Regions from separate parts of the Homo sapiens genome. Here all the other regions are reported to be linked to region 1. The links are microRNA targets in miRTarBase. Many come from high-throughput screens and were not tested one by one. Region 1 holds a microRNA gene; each other region holds the end of a gene's coding sequence.

Region 1 (4,108 bases):
ATTTACAAATTTAAAAAATTTAAACTCTATTTTAGCAACTTTGAAATACACAATACATTAGTATTAACTGTGGTTACCATGCTGTGCAATAGATCACTGAAATATATTTCTCCAGTCTCGCTGAAACTTTGCACCCTTTGATCAACATCTTCTCTTTTCCCAACCCTCTCCCACTTCCCTGGACTCTAGTAGCCACCTTTATACTGTTTCTATGAGCTCGACTTTTTAAGATTCCATATAAAAGTGGGATCATGTGGTGTTTGTCTTTCTGTGTCTGGTTTATTTCACTTAGAATAATGTCCTCCAGTTCCATCCATGTTGTCTTGAATGGCAGAATTTCCTCCCTTTTCAAGGCTGTATAGTATTCCATCGTGTGTATATGCAACATTTGCTTTATCCATTATGTCCCTTGATGGACACTTAGGTTGACTCCATATCTTGGCTATTGTGACCAGTGCTGCAATGAACTTGAGAGTGTAGATAACCCTTCGACATCCTGATTTCAATTCCTTTGGAAATATAACCAGAGGTATATGAGTCTGCTAGATCCATATGTACGATTTTATTTTTACTTATTATATATATATATACACACACACATATATATTTTCTTTTTCTTTTTTGAGATGAAGTCTTGCTCCTGTCGCCCAGGCCGAAGTGCAGTGGCGTGATCAAGGCTCACTGCAACCTCTGCCTCCTGGGTTCAAGCGATTCTCCTCCCTCAGCCTCCTGAGTAGCTGGGATTACGGGCGTGTGTCACAACGCCTGGCTAATTTTGTATTTTTAGTGGAGATGGGGTTTCACCATGTTGGTCAGGCTGGTCTCGAACTCCTGACCTCAGGTGATTCACCCACCTTGGCCTCCCAAAGTGCTGGGATTACACGCGTGAGCCACTATGCCCGGCCCTTATTTTATATTTTAAAGTCTCACTATATTGGAATCCACTATATATGGAGTCTCACTGTATGGCCCAGGTTGATCTCCAACTCTTGGTCTCACGGGGTCCTCCCACCTCAGCTTTCCAAGGAGCTGGGATTACAAGTGCAGGCTACCATGCCTGGCTGTCACACATGTCGTTTTAAATGTTTAGGCCAGGGTGGCTCACACTCGTAATCTCAGCCCTTTGGGAGGCCAAGGCGGGCAGATTGCAATGTCAAGGCCAGGAGTTTGAGATCAGCGTAGGCAATAGAGCAAGACCCCGCCCCCCCGCTTCATCTCTACAAAACTATTTTTGTTTGTTTGTTTGTCTGAGACGGAGTCTCACTGTCACCCAGGCTGGAGTGCAGTGGCGTGATCTCGGCTCACTGCAAGCTCCGCCTCCTGGGTTCACGCCATTCTCCTGCCTCAGCCTCACGAGTAGCTGGGTCTACAGGCGCCCGCCACCATGCCCGGCTAATTTTTTGTATTTTTAGTAGAGACAGGGTTTCACCATGTTGACCAGGATAGTCTCGATCTCTTGACCTCGTGATCCGCCCGCCTCGGCCTCCCAAAGTGCTGGGATTACAGGCGTGAGCCACGGCGCCCGGCCGAATTTCTCTTGTTTTAAGTCACTGAATTGGGGATAATTTGTTATAGTAGCCGTTAAGAAACTAATGCAATCTGTTTGAGCTTCTGTCCCCTCCACGCTAACGGCAGAGTTTCTGAGGCTTTTAGAGAACATCTTTTCCAACCCTTCCACATAGGGAAGGAAACTGAGGCTCAGAGAGAGGATGGAGACTGAAGGAGACCTCAGGCTTCCCGCTCTTCATCCAGGCTCCGTGGGTCACTGTGGCAATTTACAGATATTTTTCCCGTTTTAAAAAAAATAGGCTGGGCACGGTGGCTCATGTCTGTAATCTCAGCACTTTGGGAGGATGAGGTGGGCAGATCAACTGAGGTCAGGAGTTCAAGACCAACCTGGCCACCATGGTGAAACCCCGTCTCTACTAAAAATACAAAAAATATTAGCCGGGCATGGTGGTACATGTCTGTACTCCCGGCTACTTGGGAGGCTGAGACTTGAGAGAATCGCTTGAATCCGGGAGGCAGAGGTTGCAGTGAGCCAAGATTGCGCCACTGCTCTCCACCCTGGGTGACAGAGTGAGACTCCATCTAAAAAAAAAAGTACAGAATGTGGACTGAACATGGAGGCTCACACCTGTAATCCCAACACTTTGGGAGTCCAAGGCAGGAGGATCCCTTGAGGCCAGCAGTTTGAGATCAGCAGCCTGGGCAACATAGCGAGACCCCATCTCTACACAAAAATAGCCAGCTCTGGCGGTGCACACCTATAGTCCCAGCTACTTGTGAGGCTGAGGTAGGAGGTTTGCTTGAGCCTAGGAGTTTGAGGCTGCAGTGAGCTGTGATCACCACACTGCACTCCAACCTGCGTAACAGAATAAAGGTCTCAAAACAAAAACAAAAAGGCCAGAATGTTTATTGAGTTTTCTTTTAAGGCTGAGACAGAGCACAAGGTTTGGTTGGAGTCCTAGTTTGTTTGTTTACCTGCTATGTGGCCTTGGATAAGAGTCTACCTTCCCTGTGCCTCAGTTTCTCCCTCTGTAAAATGGGCATGGTGAGATAAGTCATCTCAGAGGGTTGTAGTGTGGAGGGCTGCTGTGAGAATCAATGTTACTGTGCGGCATAGTCCTGGAAGTGTTTGAAATGCTGTAAAATGGGCCTGGCACAGTGGCTCATGCCTGTAATCCCAGCACTTTGGGAGGCCAAGGTGGATGGATCATGAAGTCAGGAGTCTGAGACCAGCCTGGCCAACATGGGGAAACCCCGTCTCTACTAAAAATACAAAAATTTGGCCAGGCACCATGGCTCATGCCTGTAATTGCAGCACTTTGGGAGGCTGAAGCAGGTGGATCACCTGAGGTCAGGAGTTTGAGACCAGCCCGACCAACGTGGAAAAACCCCATCTCTACTAAAAAAAAAAATACAAAAAATTAGCCGGGCGTGGTGGTGCATGCCTGTAATCCCAGCTACTCAGGAGGCTGAGACAGCAGAATCGCTTGAACCCAGGAGGCAGAGGTTGCAGTGAGCCAAGATCGCACTATTGCACTCCAGCCTGGGCAACAAGAGCGAAACTCTGTCTCAAAAAAAACAATAAAAATAAAAATAAAAAAATTTTTAAAAAAGGCCGGGTGTGGCAATGTTCGCCTGTAGTCCCAGCTGCTCGGGAGGCTGAGGCAGGAGAATTGCTTGAACCCGGGAGGCGAAGGTTGCAGTGAGCTGAGGTCGTACCACTGCACTCCAGCCTGGGTGACAGAGCAAGACTCAGTCTCGGAAAACAAAAGCAAAAACAAAAAAATGCTGTAAGACAAGAAAAATAAATGAGATGCAACGATTGGAAGGCAAGAGAGAAAACTGCCAGATAGATTCTCTTTTCTTTTTTTTGAGATAGGGCTTTACTCAGTTGCCCAGGCTGGAGTGCATTGTCATGATCATGGCCCTCTGCAGCCTTGACATTTTTGGGCTCAAGTGATCCTCCCACCTTAGCCTCCCGAGTACGTGGGACTACAGGCACATGCCACCAAGCCATGCGATTTTTTTTTTTTTTGTATTTTTTGGAGAGACACGGTGTTTCACCATGTTGCCCAGGCTGGTCTCAAACTCCTGGGCTCAAGCGATCTGCCAGCCTTAGCTTCCCAAAGTGCTGGGATTACAGGTGTGAGCCAGGGCACATGGACAGGTCTCTTCTTCTTCTTCCTCTTTTTTTTTTTTTTTTTTTTTGTGTGTGTGTGTGTGTGAGACATTCTTGCTGTTGGCCAGGCTGGAGTGCAGTGGCACAATCTCGGCTCACTGCAACCTCTGCCTCTCGGGTTCAAGTGATTCTCCTGCCTCAGCCTCCTCCCGAGTAGCTGGGACTACAGGCGCATGCCACCATGCCTGACTAATTTTTGTGTGCGTGTATTTTTAGTAGAGACGGGGTTTCACCATGTTAGCCAGGATGGTCTCGAACTCCTGACCTCACGTGATCCACCCACCTTGGCCTCCCAAAGTGCTGGGATTACAGGTGTGAGCCACTGTGCCCAGCCAGGTCTCTCCTTAAATGCTCCTTTGACAGAGAAACCTCCGCTACCCTCCCATCCACTCGTCCTCTCCTTCAAAGTTAAAATGATGT
Region 2 (4,108 bases), not on the chromosome of region 1:
GGAGGGACACATGAACTCTCCCTAATCCTCTGGAGTCCTCTGAAAGGACAAGGTCTGTCTTCCTTAGCTGGTCTCTGAATTGCAGCCCATCTCAGGATTTCAGGACTGCAGAATTATCGAAGGGTTCCCAGGATATGTGCCTGTTTCCCCTTGTTTGTAGTCCCAAAGAGAGTATCCCAGGTATTTTGTGTCAGAATTGTTTGAAACACTCACTTGACTTAACATTGACCCCTGTTCCTGGGTTGCTCTCCACTGATTTGACATCTTCTGTCTCTTCTGTCCCAGGAACCTATCCGCTTACGGTACAAGCTGACATTCAACCAAGGTGGACAGCCTTTCAGCGAAGTAGGAGAAGTGAAAGACTTCCCAGACCTGGCTGTCTTGGGCGCAGCCTAACTTTTCACAAGATGGACCCTTCATTTCAAGCTTAGGCTGGCGTTACTTTTGCTGTCTAGTCAGGACTAATCACGGTGTTTCAGTGCGGAGTGCCAAGAGTCCTATCCTGACGTCAGGCTCTGGGTGTCAACCTCTGACTTATTCTGCAGATGCTCTGTGTGTGTGTGTGTGTGTGTGTGTGTGTGTGTGTGTGTGTGTGTGTTCGGGGAGAGGGTGGTAGCACAGGGCTTGGGATATCGGCAGTGTGGGAAATGCGAAGCATTTCTCATCATCATCATCTCTGCTACAGTCATGTTTCTGCATGTCAGCGAGCGACACTGTCCCTGCCTCAGGTTGGAGGTTTTATCAGCCAAAGTGTTTTTTTCATGTATCGTTCGTTCCATTCATCCACTCTGTGCCTTGTCAGCCTTTGAAAGGCTTGGTTGCTCCCAGGCTGCTGTTCTCAGGGACCTTAAAAGGGACCTGGTTAGTCTTGGGGCAGAGAGTATCTACTTGGGCACTCTCTTCCAAGAAAGACCTTGTCTCCATTTTCATTAGACAATGCTTCTTGTGTGTGTTCTGGAAGATCTTCTAAATGGAATGCTTGTTGCACTGTTCCCAGGCGAGTGGCTGCCATGAGACCTGAGGACCACACTTGGGGGACCAATCATGTCCTTCACCACTGTGCCTTAGAATCGCCCCTGGACAGAGTTCCTGGGCAGAGGGGAAAGCAGCTCCCAGGCCTTACTCAGGCCTCAGGTCCATGGGTTGGGCAGCCAGTCTGGGCCCTTCTCAGGATCCTCATCTCCATCCTCATCCTCTTCCTTCACAGCATTTACTTGGAGCTCTTTGTGACACACCATGTCAGTCATGATGAATCGGCCAACAGCCAGCCCTTGCCAGCTGACGTCACAGTCTAAGATGGGAAACTGTGGTACAGATAGACATGAAGAGAGCTTAGCAGTGATTGAGGTGGTGACTAAATATACAGTCATTGAATAAATACCATGTAGCAAGTGTACTTTGTGGAGTGTTGAGTAAGTGGAAAATGGAAAGCCAGTTGCATTTAGAGATGATAGGCCTAAAGGGAACTGTCTTCTGTCGAGAAGTAAAGGAAACTTCATGAAGGATGTAGAAGCTTAGCTGCCTCAGAGAAGAGAGAACCTGAAGATCTGAGGCAAGCTGGACAGGAGAGGTGGATATTTGTTGATGGAAGAATTCAAGTTTATAATCAATTCCCACTTAGCACCTACTGTGTGCTAGGAACTTGAATGTGTATGTTTGACAAGTCCTGCTTGGCCTGATGGGTGGGAGAAGGAACCTGAGCCTGGCTGAGATGGCTAGGCGGAGGGCTTTGAAGTCCAAGCAGCTGAACTGGCTGGGTGGGTTTCTACCTTTGAAACTGCAAGACTTGTTTGGAGCTCTTAATTACAATATCTGATATTTTTACAGTCTGATCTTTTGACTTCTACATATAGTGGAAATCTGCCAATACTAATTGGTGGAGATGGGAACTGTAAAAGATCAAGTATGCTAATTTTAAGCAAATGTAAAAACTCATAAAACAGGTAAACAGTGGGGTGATTTCATTTGCCATAATTCACATAAGACGAATTTTAATCTAAAAGTACTTTCTTGCTTGTATTCTGTGTGGCTTTTTTTTGTTTTTTGAGGCCATATCTCACTCTGTCACTCAGGCTGGAGTGCGGTGGTATAATCTCAGCTCACTGCAATCTCTGCCTACCAGGTTCAAGCGATTCTCGTGCCTCAGCCTCTCGAGTAGCTGGGACTACAGGCGTGAGCCAGCACGCCCAGCTAATTTTTGTATTTTTAGTAGAGACAGGATTTCACCATGTTGGCCAGGCTGGTCTCGAACTCCTGACCTCAGGTGATCCGCCTGCCTTGGCCTCCCAGAGTGCTGGGATTACAGGCGTGAGCCACCGCACCCGGCCTCTGTGTAGCTTTTATAGGCTCTGTTACTGTTGCGTAGTCTTGAAGAGGTACCCATCATAATGACAGCATCTCCCTCTGAAGGGTTTTGGTCAAAATGGGTGAATGAGACTTATACATAAAGACAGGCTTTCTCCCCTATAGTTAGGAGGTGAACTCACACATGTGTACCTGAACATTCTTGCTTTTGAGGAGACAGACTCCCAGTGGTACTACTATGCTTAGGTGTTGGACAGGATAGGGGTAGGAGGAGAGGAGGCAGGCTGCTGTCCTGAAAGTGGCTGTGGTTTATGGCATCACTCCCTTCTAATCAGCAAGTCCAGTGGCCACTTAGAGCCCAGCTCCTACCTCTTCATTCACTTAACAAGTAGTTATTGGCTGTGCACAGTGGCTCACGCCTATAATCCCAGCATTTTGGGAGGCTGAGTGGGATGACCGCTTGAGCCCAGGATTTCAAGTCCAGCCTGGGCTACATAGTGAGACCGTGTCTCTGTTTTTTTAAAAGCTAGTTGTTGACCAGCTACCCTGAGCCAGGCACCACCCTGAAGGAGCTTCTTTTCCTCTGGGGAGAAGCAAATTCATGATGTGTGTGCTGGAGATCTGGCACTCATGGCCAGTGCTTTCCAGTATCTTGAACTCTTCGGGGGTCCTGTTGACCCATTTCGTGACCTACCTCCGTGACTGCTCTTTTTCCTCTGTCTCTTAAGTGTGATGGTTTTCCAGAGTCCAATCCTCAGGACTTTCCCGTCCACACACAGGCCTGGTAGTCAGGTGGCTCTAAACCATTAGGTGGGTTGTAGACCTCTCTCAAGCTGCCACCTCCTTGCTGTCGCCAGATCGTATTTCAGTCTGTCAGGGGTTATCTGTATCTGGAGGTTCCACTGTTGCTTCAGTCTCAGTTACTTAGAATGGAACCCAGAGTCCTGCCCCTTTCCACCTACATGCTCTTACTTGAAAGCACCTGAGACTTATTGGGTCCCTGATTCCTGCTTCGTCTGTATCCGCAGAGTAGTTGCATGTCATTTGGCCTGTTTTCTAAATAATCCCACATCATGTCCTCCCTGCACTTACATTGCCACTGCTCTGATTTGGGCTTTTTTTTTTTTGGGACAATGCCTCTGTCCCAATTCTGAGTAACAGCTCTGGTTCTTGCCACTACCAGAGTTCTCTAGCAAATCTGAGCATCTGACAGGGTGAAAAATTCTGAATGGCTTCCTGATGCCTGACTTTATGGGATCAAATTCAAGTTGCACGCTGGCACTCAGTGCCCTTCTGGTATCATCTGCCAAGACCAGGGCCTGCTTCACCACAGCCACAATAAAGTCCTTTCAAGCCCTGATAATGCCATGTTTTGTCCTAACCTTTTGCTGCAGTTAATTACTCTTCCTATTATCTTCCATGAACTTAAGACTGGGCAAAAATGTTTCCTTATCTGTGAGCCACTCTGAACACAAACAGGTCATGAAGATAGTGTTGAAAACAATAAATGACAACCAAAAGAAAAGTGAATATTACCTAGTACAAATAGTGTAAATTGAGACAGAAAATGTTAAAGCTAGAAAGCAAGGGCAATATTCTAGAATACAAATAGTGCTTGCCTACTACAATATTAATCCCAAATCCTTTAAATATACCCATTATAGAAGATGCTTACCCAGCGTCAAGAGTATAAAAGTGGGTTTGTTTGTTTTCTTGAGACAGGGCTTTGCTCTGTTGCCCAGGCTGGAGTGCAGTGGCGTGATTGTAGCTCAATGCAGCCTTGAATTCCTGTGTTCAGGCGATC
Region 3 (4,108 bases), not on the chromosome of region 1:
TTAAGATATGAAATTAATTATCTTTATTATAAGAAAGTATAATCTAGCTAATAAATGTCCTCTTCAATTACATTTAGATAATATTGCTAGATATGTAACTGTAATTTCTTTTAATGTCCTCATAGAAAAAGAATCAATTTAAAACAAATTAAACATGTTATTCTTTTAGTGTTCAAATACTAAGCATTCACTTTAAAAGACTATACCAAAATTGTTTTAAGCTTTCTTGTAATGCACAAAATTTTAACATATTTATTAATGTCTTCTGAATATAAAAGTAATGCATGTTTATAAAAGACTAAGAAGAGTATAAAAATGCAAATAAAAACTATCTGTAACTTAATCAACCACATACAACCACATTTCTACTATTTAAAAATAAAGCAAGCATGGATTTGTAACAGAAGAGGAACTAATAATAAAAATGAACGGCATGCTTATCCATTTTTATTAACTCATATATGCAAAGTAACGTCCTTAAAAATAAATTGTTCTACACGAATACATGGACAAATTAAAGGCTTTTAAATCAATAACATCTTTTGGATTTAAATATTAAAAGTTACTTTGAGAAGATTTTAGATAAAACATTTCATTGTGTTATTTTATCACACATTAATTTATTCCTCTTCCTCTTATAGGTTTCATCCAAAGAATATCAAAAGGAGGCCTAATTAAAACCAAAAGAAAAAGAAAGAAGCAGAGAGTGAAAATAGCATATGAAGAAATTTTTGTTAAAAATATGTGAATTTGTTATAGCAATGTAACATTAATTCTACTAAATATTTTATATGAAATGTTTCACTATGATTTTCTATTTTTCTTCTAAAATGCTTTTAATTAATATGTTCATTAAATTTTCTATGCTTATTGTACTTGTTATCAACACGTTTGTATCAGAGTTGCTTTTCTAATCTTGTTAAATTGCTTATTCTAGGTCTGTAATTTATTAACTGGCTACTGGGAAATTACTTATTTTCTGGATCTATCTGTATTTTCATTTAACTACAAATTATCATACTACCGGCTACATCAAATCAGTCCTTTGATTCCATTTGGTGACCATCTGTTTGAGAATATGATCATGTAAATGATTATCTCCTTTATAGCCTGTAACCAGATTAAGGAATACAGCTCTTAAAAAATCAAGAACTTCCTGAGTTTCACATATAAAATGGTGACAAACACCTGCTTCTGATAAAGTTTATCCAATTTTGTATTTATAGTATTCTATTGTAATAATAGAATTCTATTATGTGCTTCCCTCCTTAGACATAGTTTTTCTCCTTTTGTACTAACCAGTACTTCCATCTATATTGAGCTAAACTGTCTTTGAACAGTCAACTCTGCATCATGTGCCTGCCTGATTTGGATTGGTTTCACTTTTTTTTTTGTTTGACCATAGCCCATTCTATCAGTCAAGATGACTGAATAATTGTGTGTTAAATACAACTCATGATAAGGAGAACCTTTATGGAAACAAGAAGTTTTATGGCAATCGAGAGGGAATTATTTATATGTACTTCTTAATACTATGCTTCCCAATATTTTTTCTTACTAAAAATAACAAAAATATTTAAACCTTCTGAAATCTATTCAGTTATCATTAGGATTTGCACACAATGCAACTAATAATTCATGCTTTAAAAAGTAGGTTATTTCTGTTGAAGAGAAAATTATCAGCAGGGAAGAGTCTACTAGAAAATTCATGTGCTAGTCATTCTTGGGGATTTAATATTTTGCTGGAGTTAATTCACTATATCCAGACCTGTATCTTTCATTTATTGCTGAGCCATGTGCAGTCTGGCATCTCAACAACCTCAACAACCTCAACAACCTCCAAGACATGTCAGTTTCTGTAGTGTTCACCTCAAATCTGACACTGGAATTGGAACTGATTTAGAAACAACCATTTCATTCATTTGGTATGACTAGCTTCATGACTAGCTTCATGAATAGCTTCATGAATAGCTTCATGACTTCTCGCTAACAATGATAGTATAATTCTGCCTGTTCTTCAGGATTGAAATTTTGAACTCAATTTAGATTTCCTGTTTTCCCTCATATACCACATCTAAACAGTCTCCAAATCTTTATGCTTTTTTTTTTTTTTTTCGAAAAAGTTCACCCAATCCCTAGGCTTTTTACTTTTTTCTTTTTCTTTTCTTTTTTCTTGTTTTTTTTTTTTTTTCATTTTGTTTTGTTTTGTTATGTTTTTTTAGACAGGGTCCCACTCTGTCACCCAGGCTGGAGTGCAGTGGTGCAATCACAGGACACTGAAACCTCCCACCTAGCTGGGACTAGAGGTGCAGGCCACCACACCAGCTAATTTATGTAATTTTTGTAGAGACGAGTTTCACCACGTTACCTAGGCTTGTCTTGAACACCTGGGCTCAAGCAATCTTCCAGCCCCAGCCTCCCAAAGTGCTGGGATTACAGGTATAAACCACAATGCCCCCGTTTTTACTCTTTACTGCATCCTTCCCATCAGTATTAATTCCTCAGAAATTTAGTACATTCCTCCACCATTTCAAAATGCTCCCAGAACTCACACTAGTTGGTACTTAACTACAACCTTCAACCTCACCATTTAATTTTGATGTATGTTTTTGGATTTACCAACAGTACTTTCTTTCATGACTACTTTGATTTAGTTAAGAATGCTCACTGTACACTGAATGTTAATTACTCAGCTAATTCACACTGATTTCCTGTTTAAAAATATGATCCCCTCCAGGCCATTCATGTGAAGTCAGGGTACAGCTGATGCCAGCTACAGAATCACTATGTTTCAATATGGAATATGAAAAGTCCTAACACATAATTGCAAATCATTTTCTACTATGGTATACAAATTTTATCATTACAAAATAGTATCAGCTTTTTTCACTTAAGGAAAATAATACATCTTCATTCAAATATTCAGTGCATAAATAATTGCCTTAAATTGAGTCTTTGCTGTGGAATTTGAGAGTTTTGGAAATCAAAGGCCCTTGTGAAACATTTCCTGTTGCCATTTATTTATAGATAGCAATAGCTTCAAATGAGTGGGAAAGTCTACTTAGGTGAAGTGGTAAATAGTCACTAAGATTGTATAAATAGCGCATTGATGAGTTGCCTAATTGTTTTCTCCAACAATAACCACTGGTCCATTGGTTCACTACTTACTCAAGAAAGACATATACTGAGATGGCTTGAAATGTTTAATGCATGTGAACGTTATTTTTACCGTGTTTTGGAAAAAGATCTTGATGTTATTGTCTTCCTTTATTTTCCACAATTAAGTGCATCTAACTGTGAATTGTATATGGAATTACATTATTCAGCATATACATATATTTACCTGCTTTGTTCATTCTCTGTATTCAAAATTAACAGATCATGCTGAAAACCACTCAAACGATTATATTTTTTACATTATAAGAAGTAAAATATATTATTCTGAATAATGAAACCTGGCTGTTGTACTCGTAAAGATTTTAGTACATAAAGAATTCAATGCTCATTAGTTATCATAACGGTACAAAATCTTAAGACCAAAAATGATTGTTCCCACACTCTGGTTTTATTTCCTTAAATTGGAATTGTTAATAGCTGCCTTTTAATTGCAAGTACACACCCATATATTATAATTTATTTGTCAAACAAATTAGTACACTATGTCCTAACAATCTATACATTTAAAATTTACTCTGCTACATATATATTTTCATCACTCATTTCATATACAATTGTATGAATATAGACATGTATATTTAAATATATGTTATATAACTATACATTACATAACTTCCTATCCTGGCTATTGTATTTGGCCTAGCCCATCTCTATATCAGAAGAAAAAAAATCATGACACTAAACTAGCTAACTAGGCTGTTGGTTGATTCTGTCATCAGCGGCTCCTGCTCTTACCTGGTTTTTAGCAAATTAGCAATTTTATTTAGTGTTTCCAACTTTTGACTTTAAGTGCTTTCTCAGGGACTTTGGCTGGGATGTACTTTAATCACTTTCCCCACATTTTGCTAGGTAGAACAGAAAACCTTGCTTTTGTTGGTCCTGCAGGTCCAGTTTCTGAACTACTTACAACCACATAGCTAGTTTCTTGGTT
Region 4 (4,108 bases), not on the chromosome of region 1:
ATAAAATTATCGAGTGTGTTCAGGAGCGGCTATGCCAGTGAATTTCCAGCCTGAAATGAAATCATGACTTAGGTGTATTTATGAGTATCTGTTTTAAAAACCACTGTGATAGCTAGCTATCACCTCAAATTTTGAAGTCGTTTCGTTGAGTGTGAAAAAAAGGAGAAGACATTTCAAAGTGCATTTAGCTATTTAAAAACCCTTTATTCACTGAGTGTGCTGCTGATTATTACATGTCTGTGGAAGCTTCTGGAGCCAGTGGTGGAGAGGCAGATGTGAATAATCAGTCGAGATGTATATTGATATGACATTATGAACCAACAGAGGAAATCCATTAACGACATCATTTGCTCTTCCTCTGGGGCTCAATTTATAATTATTTATGTTCCAAACAAAACAAAACAAACCCTTTTTGCTCTTTTAGTACTCGGGAGAGCCTGGCTTCCAACACATCAAGCATTGTTGAAAGTAACCGTCGTCAGAACCCCGCTTTGAGCCCGGCCCATGGTGGAGCTGGTCCAGCCTTCAACTTCCGAGCGAGCGCGGAGCCCCCGACAAATGAAGCTGAGAAGCTACAGAAACCTTCCAACTGCTTGCAAGCTTCTGTTACTAGCGTGTGATTGTCCTTCTGCCTCAGATCTTCTGTCTCATTCGATACAGCAAAGTTTACGACACTGGGACTGATGTTTACATCTTTGGAAAGACAAGCATCTCAACCACAGTTTTTGTGTTTACTTAAACTGTGCTGCTAAGTAGGGCTAGGGCAAAAAAACAAAAAATCTTTATTTCAGAGTATTGCTTTTCACATTTATGGCTCTGTAGCAACTGAGTAACAGTAGGGGTGATATGTATACTTTTGCTTCACTAATTGTATCTGAGCACACATAGGAAAGTCTAGACACTGTAAGTGTAATACGCATTTTCAATGTCATGCAGTTGCCAATTCCATTTTAAAATGCCACAGATGCGTGTTGCTCCCAGTCTGTGGTTAAACGGTGCCACAGAACTGATCCTTGACACTTCCAAAAAAAAAAAAACAAAACAAAACAAAAAAAATTTAAAAAAAAAAAACAAAAAACAAAACTAAGCTACCACGAAATGTCAAATGCAAGGGTCCACCTTGAGGGAAATAGATGCCAAACTAACTAGAAGGGACCCCGGCCCTTTGTGTGTGAATTGTTTATGCACCAGTCATTTTTCACTGTGAGTTTTCGTGACACTATTTTGCAGGAGCCCATGGAAGTGTGTGAGAAGGGGTCGCAATGGAGATCACTGGGAGTGAATGTTTTCAGGGTTTTGTTTTGAAGTGTCACAGATGCTTGTCTGATTTTTTTAACCTTCCGTGATCACAAACAGGAATATAGGCCTTTGAATCTGAAGTGGACAAAGGAAAGCAATTTCCAGTCTGGCTGGGGCACAGCATTAGGTGATTGAAAAGGTGATGTGGACTTGTAAAAGGTGTTACTCAAATATTGAAGGAAGAGAATTTCCTCCTTGTGATACTTAGGATGACCCTATCTTACTCTAATAGATACAATAATTAGTTTGTTTAAAAGCAAAATGTTCTTTGTGATACAAATGAAGAGTAGGGCCTGAGGATGTTATTCTTTCTAATGGAAGGACATAAATCTATTTTATGTAGTTTTAAATAGAATGCCTAAATTAGGCTGTGGGAGATAATTTTTAGTGGTTGTAGGAAAGAGCAAATTTAGGGAGTGTTGAACTTCAGGCCTTTTATTCCTGGGAAGATATGTATAGAGAAAACTTTTAAAATAATTTTTGATTAGAAATATACATGTGCCCATGTAATAAACAACAGAATGTGCTCATTCTGCTAGTGCGGTATAATCCGAATTTGTACTCCCCTAAAATTTATCAGAATAACAATTATGCATACATGAACTATGCCAGAGTAATGTTTACAGATACTTTGTAACCAATTTCAGGAGGCGTTTTTAGCTGGATGTGTAGTTAATTAGACCAACTTATTTCCAAATGGTTTGTTAACATTTTGCTTTGGTTTACAATGTCATGTTGAACACAAAGAAGACCCAGCAGCAAAGGGATGACCAATAATTTCATCTTATAGCAAGGAGACATTCCAACGTTCCCATGTTTTATTTTCTGAGAACAGTGGGACAGATCTGTAGTAATGGAATATTATTTGCAAAAGGGTTACATATGACACAAGTAAGTGTTCTGACATAAAGTTTTATTTAGTTCAGTGGCATGTGCTGTTGGGAGCCATACACCATAAAATATATATATCCCAAAATAAATCTAGAATATTTTCACCTCCAATTTCAGTAATTGGCATATGATTTGTGAGACGCATCTGTTTTTGTATGAGGTTTAATCACTAGCAATCTGTTTAAAGAATCCAGTCCTATACACAGTTGGACTCATTCTTGAAACCTTTAAATGCTCCCTCATAGTTTTTCAGTTATTTGGAAGTTGCATTGGGTCAAACTGAACTCCTTGAGTTTGGTGTAAATTCCTTTTTTCTGCTTATTATAGTGAAACTTCAGCATGTTTCTTAGTAAACTCCCATACCATTGAAATGCTTAAGCCAGTTGGCTTTCAGTCTCATGCCTTATTTCCTCCAAGGCATGCCTCAACGCATTGTTTGTCTCATTGCTTAAATATGTCCAGAAGGAATGATCATGTATCTAATAGACTACATAGTTGGTTCCCTTGGGGAGTTATATATCATACAGTTACTAAATATTTGTCTAAATTCATTTTTTCCAAAAACCTGCTCTCAAATTTTTCTTCTACTCTCAGTTCATAAATAATATAACCATTGAAACAACACATCAGCCTCTAGCTGATCCTCTGAAAGTAGCCATTGAAATAATCGAATACTGTGTGAACAGGAAAGGAAAGCGTTACCTTTAAGAGAAGCTTTAAAATAGGAATTTATTGATATTTCACAAGATATAGGTTTACAGAAGACATTATTCAAATAAATATGTACACTATTTGCCTGATGCTATGGGGTACATAATTTTTTAAAAACTCCCTTAGACCAGCAGCCATTAGTGTAGAAATGATGGACTTTAAAGGTGATACCATGTAAGCAGATGTTGCATATAAAAATATTCCTGCCTGAATCTGATCGAGATTCTTGAATGGGGGAGGAGTGGCAGCCGGCAGCACATTGCAAATGTCATTCGAGGTCACGGTGAGGCTCTCGGTCCCGGAACAGTGGGGGCCTCGCCAGGCGTTGCCAGTATCCCTTTCCTCCTGTAAAATCATAGCTTTGTGTTACACGACTGCTTATCCAGTCTTAGGGTTTAGCAGCTGAAAGGTTTACAAAACTGAATCTGGTTGAATCTCTGTGAAAGGGTCAACACATCTGTCGGCATTTTGCACACTTATGTATTATTATGATACAACATATTACTTTATGGTAATTTTTATTTTTACATATAACTACCTCCATAAATTTGATGAAATGGCAGCCGTGTGTTAAAGTGTATCGTTCAGAAGAGCAAAGTTGAACACTTCCTTCAACATTAGGGCATGGCGTGCTGTGTGTGTCAGTGATTGCCTCTGTGGACTCATGACTTTCCATCGCCATGGCTTTCTCTTACGCCGCTGTTTGGCTTTCAGATGTAATCCTGTCTTCTCCTCTCTTCCCCACGAAAGCGCACTCGATTTTGTTAGGAATGAACGGAAGTTTAAAAATTCTTGTGCCCACCCCCGCCCTCCACCCATTCCTGTTAAAAGTTCTCTGGCGAAGAGCCAATGGGTGAACGTAATTGAAAGAGCTATTTACTCTTTTGGAAATCTGATTTGAAGTCTAAGTTTTCAGTAACAGAAGACACACAAGCAATGTGGACTGCCAAGCTTGAAGCACTTCGGGCTCTGCCTTCACTCGCATGCTACCATGTCGAGCCCAAACTCCACTTTAATTAAAAGAGCTGTGCTGTGAATTCCACAACTTCTGTTAAATAATTTGTATTCCATTATATATATTTTGCACATCTCAGGGGACCATAATGAACATATGAAAGGGGGGGGGGTGCCATCAAATAGAGAAAACAAATAGAAGAGGTGAATGGAGACTAGCTGGATAAAAATAACAAATTACTTCTTCTCTGAT
Region 5 (4,108 bases), not on the chromosome of region 1:
CTCAAAGAATTATTTTCAACAAATAGTATTTAAGCATTGGCCAGGATGGGAATAAGACCAAGAGAACCGTCTAGGCAGTGACTCAATGTGTTGAAGCCAGGAGTGGCAGCTGATACCCTGCATTTTCAAAGCCCTACCATCTATGACAATCTTTCCCTTCCTTAACACCCCAATTCACCATCAAAACTCATTTCCCAAGGACTGTATTTCCTTAAAAGGTTGTTGGCACAGAATCTGGGGGTAATGCAAATCCTTTGGGTAGGTAGTTAAGATTGTGGCTTGGAAAAGCTTCCCTAAATAGGGCTTAGAGGACTGTCCACCTCATCTTTCATATTTTGCTGCTAACAATCTAATACTTCAGATGCAGAACCTTCAGTGTTTTAGGGCCTTTGAGCTGCTGACACACAATAGTGCATCAGAGCTGCCTCTCAGTGCTCCGGTCACCTACACAGAAGATGACTGAAGGAATGAAATGACGAGTTAATTCCCAGGAAGAAAATGAAACTGGGAACAAATGCATTGCCCAAATTGAGCTGACCCTCCTCCACTAAGGTTTGAAAAGACCCTATTAAAGATACCTTCCATGTGGGCACGAGGTTGGCCACCAATCAAGTAGCCTCTTTTGCCTAATATCCTTGGCAAATATAAATTTGTTAGCAACAGGTCTGAATGAAAGAGACTGGGTGGGTCTTGATTCAGAAGAGCTGAATTCACTCTGTGAGTCTGAAGATACAAGTCAGCCTCCAGGAATCTTTGCTTAGCTGGATAGTGTGAAAATAGATGATGATGGGAGTGAAGATAGAAAGAGGATAAGGACTGATTTGAGGGAAGCTGGTAAGGTTCTTCTGTGGCTCCTGAAATCACATCATTAGTAATGTCATCTTTGGGTCTTCAGAGCTTTTTGTATTACCTATGGGTATAATTAAGCAACTGGGAGGGTTGATACTGTTACATTTCTTAGCTTGTACCTTCTAAGGTAGTTAACACCACACAGGCTGATAACTCAGGGCAAGAGAGAGGCCTGGAGAGTTGACAAGAGTGTGAAGATACTGGAGAGGGGTTCAAAATAGGATCAATTCTTCTAATACTATTCTTATTTCTTGCTAATAATTTGTCCTTGTAATTATAGTGAAGTAATGGTCTGGATATAAATGAGATATGGTTTTGTGAGGAAGAAACATAGAGGATTATTCTTAACAACTGTGGCAGCCTTGCCAATATGGAACCCAATTTCAGAGTTTGTGAAATGGTACAAGTCTCATAAACTATCTCAGCACTGCATCCGTATTTGTGGGCACCTGTGCCAAAAGCACCTTGATATGTTTCTTAGTGTAATTGGCCAGAGATGGCCAATAGATGTCTTCTCAAGTGTTTTTGATCACCAGGTCAGTGCTATTGGGAGTGATATAATATGGTGGTTCCTAAAGTTATTTTTGGTCTCTTTTTTTTTTTTTTTTTAAGTGCTATGATAGATTAACAACACCTGCCTTGGATGCAGGAATTAGGTGGGGCTGCACACGTGCATGGTATTTTCTATCCCTATGCTAGGTTTTGTTTCTGTTGGCTGTCTTCACTAGACTTGAGATGACTTGATTTACAGTAATCCCTATGTGATGTAACTAGTCTAGACCTTCCCTTCTCCGCAATTCCCAGCTCCAGGTTTCAGAAAGTATGCCACACTCAACCCTTCTCTCCAGTTCATCCTGTATTAATTTCTTCCCATATTAATTCAAAGGGAGTGGACAGGTCCCTGGCTGAAAAGAAATAAAGAGATCCCCAAAGTGGTGGGGGCTTCCACGTGCAGTTGACTAATTTTCACTTAACTTTTGGAGGCTAGACATGGGAGAGAGAAAAGCACTGCCCAGTCACAGGTATGGAAGGGAGTACTGCTAGCTGGAAAAACCATATAGAAAACATGATGACCATGTTGAGTTGTTGGTGCTGAGGCTGTGAACTCTTTGGCTTCCTTCTGATGGCCCTCTTGAGAACAATCTGTACTGTTCTTATAAAAGATTCTTTCTCCCAGAATTATATCTCCTCAGAGCAACAGCAAGGTTCTCAGGATCAAAGCCTACTCTAGCCTGAAGGGCTAGGAAGATTAGGATAAGGATAAGGATAATAATCCAAAAGTCTCGACAATTCCAGTAGTCTCTGGATGGCTCCAACATCATAGAAATTTAACACTGTTCCACTTGTTTACAAAATCTAACACTGGCTTAGACATTCTGGACTTTCAGTGAGGGTTCCAGCATCTGATGTCCCTCAACTCCTTTCCAGGGTGAGAGGCCCACTTACAGGAAACTTAACTTCTCACCATGTGGACCCATGAGGGTTTTTCTCTTGCAGAAGGGCTAAAAAGTGAGGAGCTATGGAAAAATGTGGGTCACTTTTAAGGCAGACTGTTTGGTTGTGTGGAATTTTTCCTAACCTAGTTCTACCATCTTGGATTATTCAATGTATAGGATAGAGCAGCAGGAAAAGTAGCAGCAAATGTGGTCCCAAGGCAAGATCTGGGGGAACAGGTAAGTCCTAGAGGGATATTATGACCTCAAGCCTCAAGCAAGGGGCTGATATAATACCTTGACATTGCAATCCTAAGCCATTCTCAGATTGGCCTCGAACCCTGGAGTTGGGGTAAAATCCCCCATGGCAGCAGAAGAATTGGGGCGCTTTGCATACCTGATAATCTTTACCTCTTCCTAGGTCCTAGTTCCCTAGAAGGTAGGGGATCACAGACTGTTTCACTTCCAATCCCAAAGGACTGCACAATTGTGCATGTCCTACATATTCTGAGCCTCAGAGTGTGAACTAGCTTGACATCTCCACACTTGGTCTTAGCAGTTTCTGCAAATTTCTTTCTCCCAAGGATAGTGTTGGCTAGGAGCTTGGGAAAGAAAAGATTGAGTTTATTCCGGTCTCTCTCTGCTCATCTCCAGAACTGCCCTCACACAGATGTTTGTATGGGTGTGTATGCATGCATGTGTACTAAACACAGATGGGCACACTCTAGATATAGAACACGTTTCTTGCTGTGGTTGTGTGACAAATGGCTAGAATTTTAGGAGGCTCTGGGACTGCACACTGTATATGCAATCCATCTCAGACTTTGGGATGGGAATCCATTTCATCATCCAGCATGGCGAAACTTGGTTCATTCGCCCCAATGTGAGTCCTTCCTGGGTAAAATTAAAGGCAGACCGGTTGGGTGCTAAGGATCCCTGGTGTGGAGAGGCCATTCCGTTGAGCAGCTGACTGTGAAATCAATACCAAAGGGATGTGGGTCCTGGCGTTGGGAATTCTTTGACAACTTCTTGTCCTTCCTTAGCCATGGCTGTATCCCCGGAGGTCTTTCCGGCTGTGTTCTTGGGCCTGGGGGTCCCGACAAGCACAGTCACCTTGTAGATCACAGGACATAGGGAATGGGGTGACCTGCAGAAAGAAGAAGTGAATCAGGTGATTTGGTCTGAAGCAGTAATGATCAGAAAGGCAGTGCAGCGCAGGGATACAATCACTGGATTTGAGGAGCAGAAGGTTCAAGTTCAAGTTATGGCTCTGCTTCTTGCTATCCTGGTGATAACTTTTATCGAGCACACCATGATCATAATCACAGCAGTTTTCATTTGCAGAGGCACTTGCTATGGGTCAGGCATTTGCTATGGGGTAAGGCAATGTACTCAGTGATTTCCAAACAAGAAAACACTTTTGACAACTCTATAAGACAGATGCTGCAACAATCACCCTTTTATTGATGGGGAAACTGAAGCTCAGAAAGGAATAAGAATTTGCCAAAAGTAATAATAAGTGTCAAGTCTGGTATTTAAAGTAAAACAAGCTACTTACTTATCTCAGAGCCTCAGGTCCCTATGTAGAGCTGATATAATAAGACCCACTTTGTATTTTAAACTATAGGAGCTGAGTAAAATCATGGGTGGAAAATTGTCGTGCACTGTAGCAAAGTTGATTAATAGAACTGTGTAATGGAATATCTGATGTATAAGTGATCAAGTGAAAGAAAGGATGTGGAAGTGTCTTTTGAGAAAACATAAGTCTCTGCACATACTGGTCACTTTGACTTTAGTAGGCAATGATGAAAACAAAAAGCATGTCT
Region 6 (4,000 bases), not on the chromosome of region 1:
GGAATAGCTTCTGTCACGTCTGCCTGCTCTGGGCCCAGAGTCCCACCTGACTGTGCTTCCTGGAGAAGCTTGACAGGATCTTTAAGTAATGAAATCAATCTTCCCATCTTTGGAGATAGCTGCCAGCTGTTGTATTCTTGGCCTGTGAATTGTAGACCCTTCCTGTTCAGTACGCACACCACAGCCAGGTGGCACTTTTCCTGTTGGGCCTCTGCATCAGGTGTTTGAGCAGGCTTCGAATTTCTGCTTGTGTCAAAGGGCCTACAGTAGTACCCCCTTATTTGAGGTTTTGTTTTCCACGTTTTCAGATACCCAACTTCAACCACAGTCCGAAAATTTTTAATGGAAAATCTACAAATAAACAATTCATAAATTTTAAGTTGATCTTGGAGGTGGTCCAGTCAAGCTAGAGTTTCAGGTTTTGTCCGTTTCAGATGGCTGCCAAATGCAAGTAGGGCTCTTGAGTGTTTCCAGGAGGTGTGGCTGTGAGTTGTCTGATGAAATATTTTGCCATCCTGCTCCGTCCCACCCAGGACATAAGTCATCACTTTGTCTGGAGGATCCACACCATGCACTCCCTGCCCATCAGTCACTTAGAAGCCGCCGTGGTTATCAGATGGACTGTCGTGGTATCACGGTGCTTGCATTCCAGTAACCCTTATTTTACTTGACAGTGGTCCCAAAGCACAAGAATAGTGACGCAGGCAACTTGGATATGCCAAAGAGAAGCTGTAAAGTGCTTCCTTTACGTGAAAAGGTGCAAGTTCCTGACTTAATAAGGTAAAAAACAGAAAAACAAAAAACCCTCATATGCTTCTATGAAGCGTAAGAAACCCTCATAGGTTTCTAAAGATTTAAGGTAAGAATGCATCTTCTATCCATAAGAATTTTCTTAGTCTGTTTTCTGTGGTCATAACAGAATAGACAGGCATAAGGGAGAGTCACCAGAACAGGACACTGAGTAATTTATAAAGAAGAGAGGTTTACTTTGGCTTACAATTCTGGAGGCCTAGGAGTCAAAGATCTGCCCACTATATCTGGTCAGCTTCCAGTGAGGCCTCTGCCATGTCACAGCATGGCAGAGAAGTGGAAAAGGAAGTGAGTGTGCCAAAGGGAGCCAAGGCAAGGAAGAACCTCACTTTGTAACAACCAGCTCTGACAGTTACTAACCGAGTCCTGCTAGACAGAGTGCTTGCTTTGGGATCCGAGATTAGTTCTTCCTCACCCTCGCTGTTTGCGGAGGTGGCAGCTGCTTTCTTAACTGTGTCCAGGTGGTGACTGGCAATGCCTGTGGTGCTGCTGGGGGTAATCTGGTGCACTCAGGATGATCACAGCTCACAGGCCTCCAGGTCAGCCAGGTGCAGAGTGGCAACTCTGAGGTGAGCCCCTATGATTTGGATGTGCTGCTCATGGGCTGCTGCTGGCAGCACCCAGCAGGCATTGTAGGGGGTGGTAAAGCCCTGGAGAAGCCGCACTGTCTCACTGGGAGCATGCAGAGGAACAGGGATGGCAGCAACATGCCCGTTGGTGATTTGGTGACTTTGCTAACGGCATTAGACCGGGGTATGTTGGAGAAGTCTCTTTCCCCAGTTGGCAGACAACAGATAAGCTTTCTGTGGAGAAGATGTACTTGAGCCTTCTTGGTCTATGGGGTCATGATGCCAGGACCTTTGGGGACGAGGAGCTCCTCTCCCACAGCTGAGGCTAGAAACATACCAGCTGGTGGTTGGCTCTTCAAGCCCAGGGTGTCCCCCAGCCTACAGCATTCCTACCACCCTCCTCCTAGAAGCCCACCTTCCTGTGGGACCAGAGTGGTCTTAAAAGTAATTTTGGCAAATTTTACCTGGTGGTGACCTCCAAAACAGAGGCACAAAGTAAAGATAGAAGGCAGCAACACATGTGAAAACAGAACAAAAACTGCCAGACCCACTGTAGAGTGTTCCTCAGACCTCACCCAATCTCTCGATCAGAGCCAGGCCCTGGCCACTCTCCCTTGATCCTCCTGTAGAAATGGGTGTCATCACTCATTGGCTTACTCAAATTTCATCCTCACTGCTAGTTGTGTTCTGAGGTTTTGGGTGGTCCCAGCTAGCCAGCTTCACAAGGGTGATTTATCCCTGTCATCAAAGATGAGTCTTAGACACCATCTAATGCTCAAGTAGTTTATTCCAGCAGTGCTCTTACAAGACAGAAAGCAGGAGCTGGCTGGTGTCATAGGCCGGATATAGTCAGAGGTCAGATGACCAACTGACTAGGAGAGCTTCTATTTGAGGACCGTTCTCAGAGTTTGGGAGATCTTTCCCATTTCTTATACATGTATTCAGTCTGGGTCAATTACCAAGTGTTTCTTTCATAGAGCAAGTTTAATCTAGTAAGGTTAGGCTTTGTTCTAAAATTTATGAAAGTTGCATCTGTGCTGAGGTGGCCTTGTCTTCTGGAAATCCCTAGGCCAGGTTGCATCCTGCTAAGTGACATGTAATATCACCACTGTGAGATGCTTGAGTGGGCCTTATCGCTATCGTTAATCTTAAAGCCATGAGATGTTTCTTGTAGTATACTACAGTTATTAAAATATTCTCTTTCTAAAAAAACTAAATTTTATTTGTGAACTCCTTTCCTATGTATTTAAGTTCCCCGATGTTTTTAACCTAGGAAAAGAATCTAACCAAATGAATCCACTGAAGCTTCCCTTTTAAAGTCCTAAAATATCCTTTGGGGTTGTAAAACAGACTTTCAAAGGGCAGTAAGTAATTTCAAAAGCTTTCTCTTTATCAAGAGAATCAAAAGACAATATGGCAAAAGACAAACAGCTTGGCTCGTGATGCTTTGGCTACTTGTATATCTTCTGACAGAGCAGAAGAAAGAAAGAATGAAGGAAGGAAAGGGAGGGAAGACAAGGAAGGAAGAAAGAAGGGAGAACATAAGAGCAAACAGCAAAATATTAAAAGATTGATTTAAAGTTATTTTTAAATATCCATATAATCTGTCAGTCGATGTGTTTAAATGCAACAGTTACCATTTTTAAAGAAATGGTCTATTTGTCATAATCCTCTTTGTATACTTACTTTTGCTAATACCTATATTTCTAAAGAAAAGCAAAAATTTTTCTTACAAGAAATATGAACACAACTCTATAGTATCACAATGCATAATGGTACCAAGAGACAGAGCCCTCTCTCTCCCGTGAGTTAGATTTAACCTTAGTGAACACAAAATCCTTTATGATCCCACGCTCTCCATTAGGCAATGTCAGAAAACATCCACAGCAAATGCTATAATGCACTTCGAACATGAATAAACATCAAGGCTTAGCTGGTTTTGCTAATGTTTCCTCATGACTCAAAAAACTATATTTTTAAATACAGAGTTCACTTGCTACTTTCACATGAACTTATTTTTAAGAACTAAAACATTACCCTAAAAAGTATTAATAATTTATTAAGCACCACTCTAAAAATTATTTCTGTAGACCTTTTCCACACAAGAAAAAAAATCAACATTATTTGTCTTTTCAGTTCAGAGGTCTCATGGTATTTTTTAAACATACTTAAAAGCATTCCATTTGTGATTTTCATGTACAATGTGAAAGTCTGTCCAAAAGTCATCCAAACCTAGGGTCAATTATACCCTTAGATGCTAGTTTTGTAGCTCACATGCACCTGAGCTGCAGAACCTTAGCAATAATACTCTGGTCTGGAACCTTCACTTTTAAAAGTCACCTGAGATTCCACACTTGACCTAGAACAAAGCAGCAATTTCTCTGAGTCATCCCTGTGGCTTCGTGTCCAGAGCTCACCTACACTTTGAGACCTGGGAAACAGGGTCTCAAATTGGATATAAGTCTCCTTTGCCAAATCATCTTCCCAAAAAGGTTCTGATTTACATTGCAGTTTGCAAACTTTGTACAACAAGAAACAAATCAATGGTAAGATAACAACACAGGCAGTACTGGTCACCACGAGAAGGAGAGACCATTGAGAATCATCTCCTTCAACTCTTT

The links. The annotated mature microRNA hsa-miR-6088 reads AGAGAUGAAGCGGGGGGGCG and lies in region 1 at 1,200-1,219, opposite strand. An mRNA with a match to its seed (bases 2 to 7 or 8) in the 3' UTR can be bound and repressed. Matches are read on the target gene's strand: a 7mer-m8 pairs with bases 2 to 8, a 7mer-A1 pairs with bases 2 to 7 and ends in A, and an 8mer does both.
Region 2: the mRNA of GGA2 is a reported target of hsa-miR-6088. Seed matches in the 3' UTR shown: 7mer-m8 at 671-677 and 7mer-m8 at 1,177-1,183.
Region 3: miRTarBase lists TFPI as a target of hsa-miR-6088. Seed matches in the 3' UTR shown: 7mer-A1 at 1,808-1,814.
Region 4: miRTarBase lists STOX2 as a target of hsa-miR-6088. Seed matches in the 3' UTR shown: 7mer-A1 at 709-715 and 7mer-A1 at 3,988-3,994.
Region 5: miRTarBase lists PAPPA as a target of hsa-miR-6088. Seed matches in the 3' UTR shown: 8mer at 1,581-1,588.
Region 6: the mRNA of LRIT3 is a reported target of hsa-miR-6088. Seed matches in the 3' UTR shown: 7mer-A1 at 2,537-2,543 and 7mer-A1 at 2,491-2,497.

What each region holds. Positions count from the first base shown.
Region 1 is chr19:45,433,765-45,437,872 of GRCh38, reverse strand. It overlaps MIR6088 (microRNA 6088), which reads right to left and starts at 1,219; the gene lies at 1,169-1,219. It also overlaps a transcript of ERCC1 not described here.
Region 2 is chr16:23,463,878-23,467,985 of GRCh38, reverse strand. GGA2 (golgi associated, gamma adaptin ear containing, ARF binding protein 2) reads left to right here. Exons shown (of 17, transcript NM_015044.4): 17 at 286-4,108. The coding sequence ends at 396. Among named protein-coding and RNA genes, the nearest start is that of COG7, 13 kb to the right of the region's middle.
Region 3 is chr2:187,463,576-187,467,683 of GRCh38, reverse strand. It overlaps TFPI (tissue factor pathway inhibitor), which reads left to right. Exons shown (of 8, transcript NM_006287.6): 8 at 642-3,454. The coding sequence ends at 748. All of the region lies in intron 2 of CALCRL-AS1 (CALCRL and TFPI antisense RNA 1), which reads right to left. Among named protein-coding and RNA genes, the nearest start is that of CALCRL, 17 kb to the right of the region's middle. RefSeq lists a silencer at 2,596-2,796.
Region 4 is chr4:184,016,665-184,020,772 of GRCh38, forward strand. STOX2 (storkhead box 2) reads left to right here. Exons shown (of 4, transcript NM_020225.3): 4 at 425-4,108. The coding sequence ends at 620. Among named protein-coding and RNA genes, the nearest start is that of STOX2, 110 kb to the left of the region's middle. RefSeq lists an enhancer at 524-1,023.
Region 5 is chr9:116,395,830-116,399,937 of GRCh38, reverse strand. It overlaps PAPPA (pappalysin 1), which reads right to left. Exons shown (of 22, transcript NM_002581.5): 22 at 1-3,429. The coding sequence ends at 3,322. It overlaps PAPPA-AS1 (PAPPA antisense RNA 1), which reads left to right. Exons shown (of 1, transcript NR_103711.1): 1 at 1-1,781. Among named protein-coding and RNA genes, the nearest start is that of PAPPA-AS1, 2.7 kb to the left of the region's middle. RefSeq lists an enhancer at 4,003-4,108.
Region 6 is chr4:109,870,464-109,874,463 of GRCh38, reverse strand. It overlaps LRIT3 (leucine rich repeat, Ig-like and transmembrane domains 3), which reads right to left. Exons shown (of 4, transcript NM_198506.5): 4 at 2,149-4,000. The coding sequence ends at 3,675. Among named protein-coding and RNA genes, the nearest start is that of LRIT3, 24 kb to the right of the region's middle.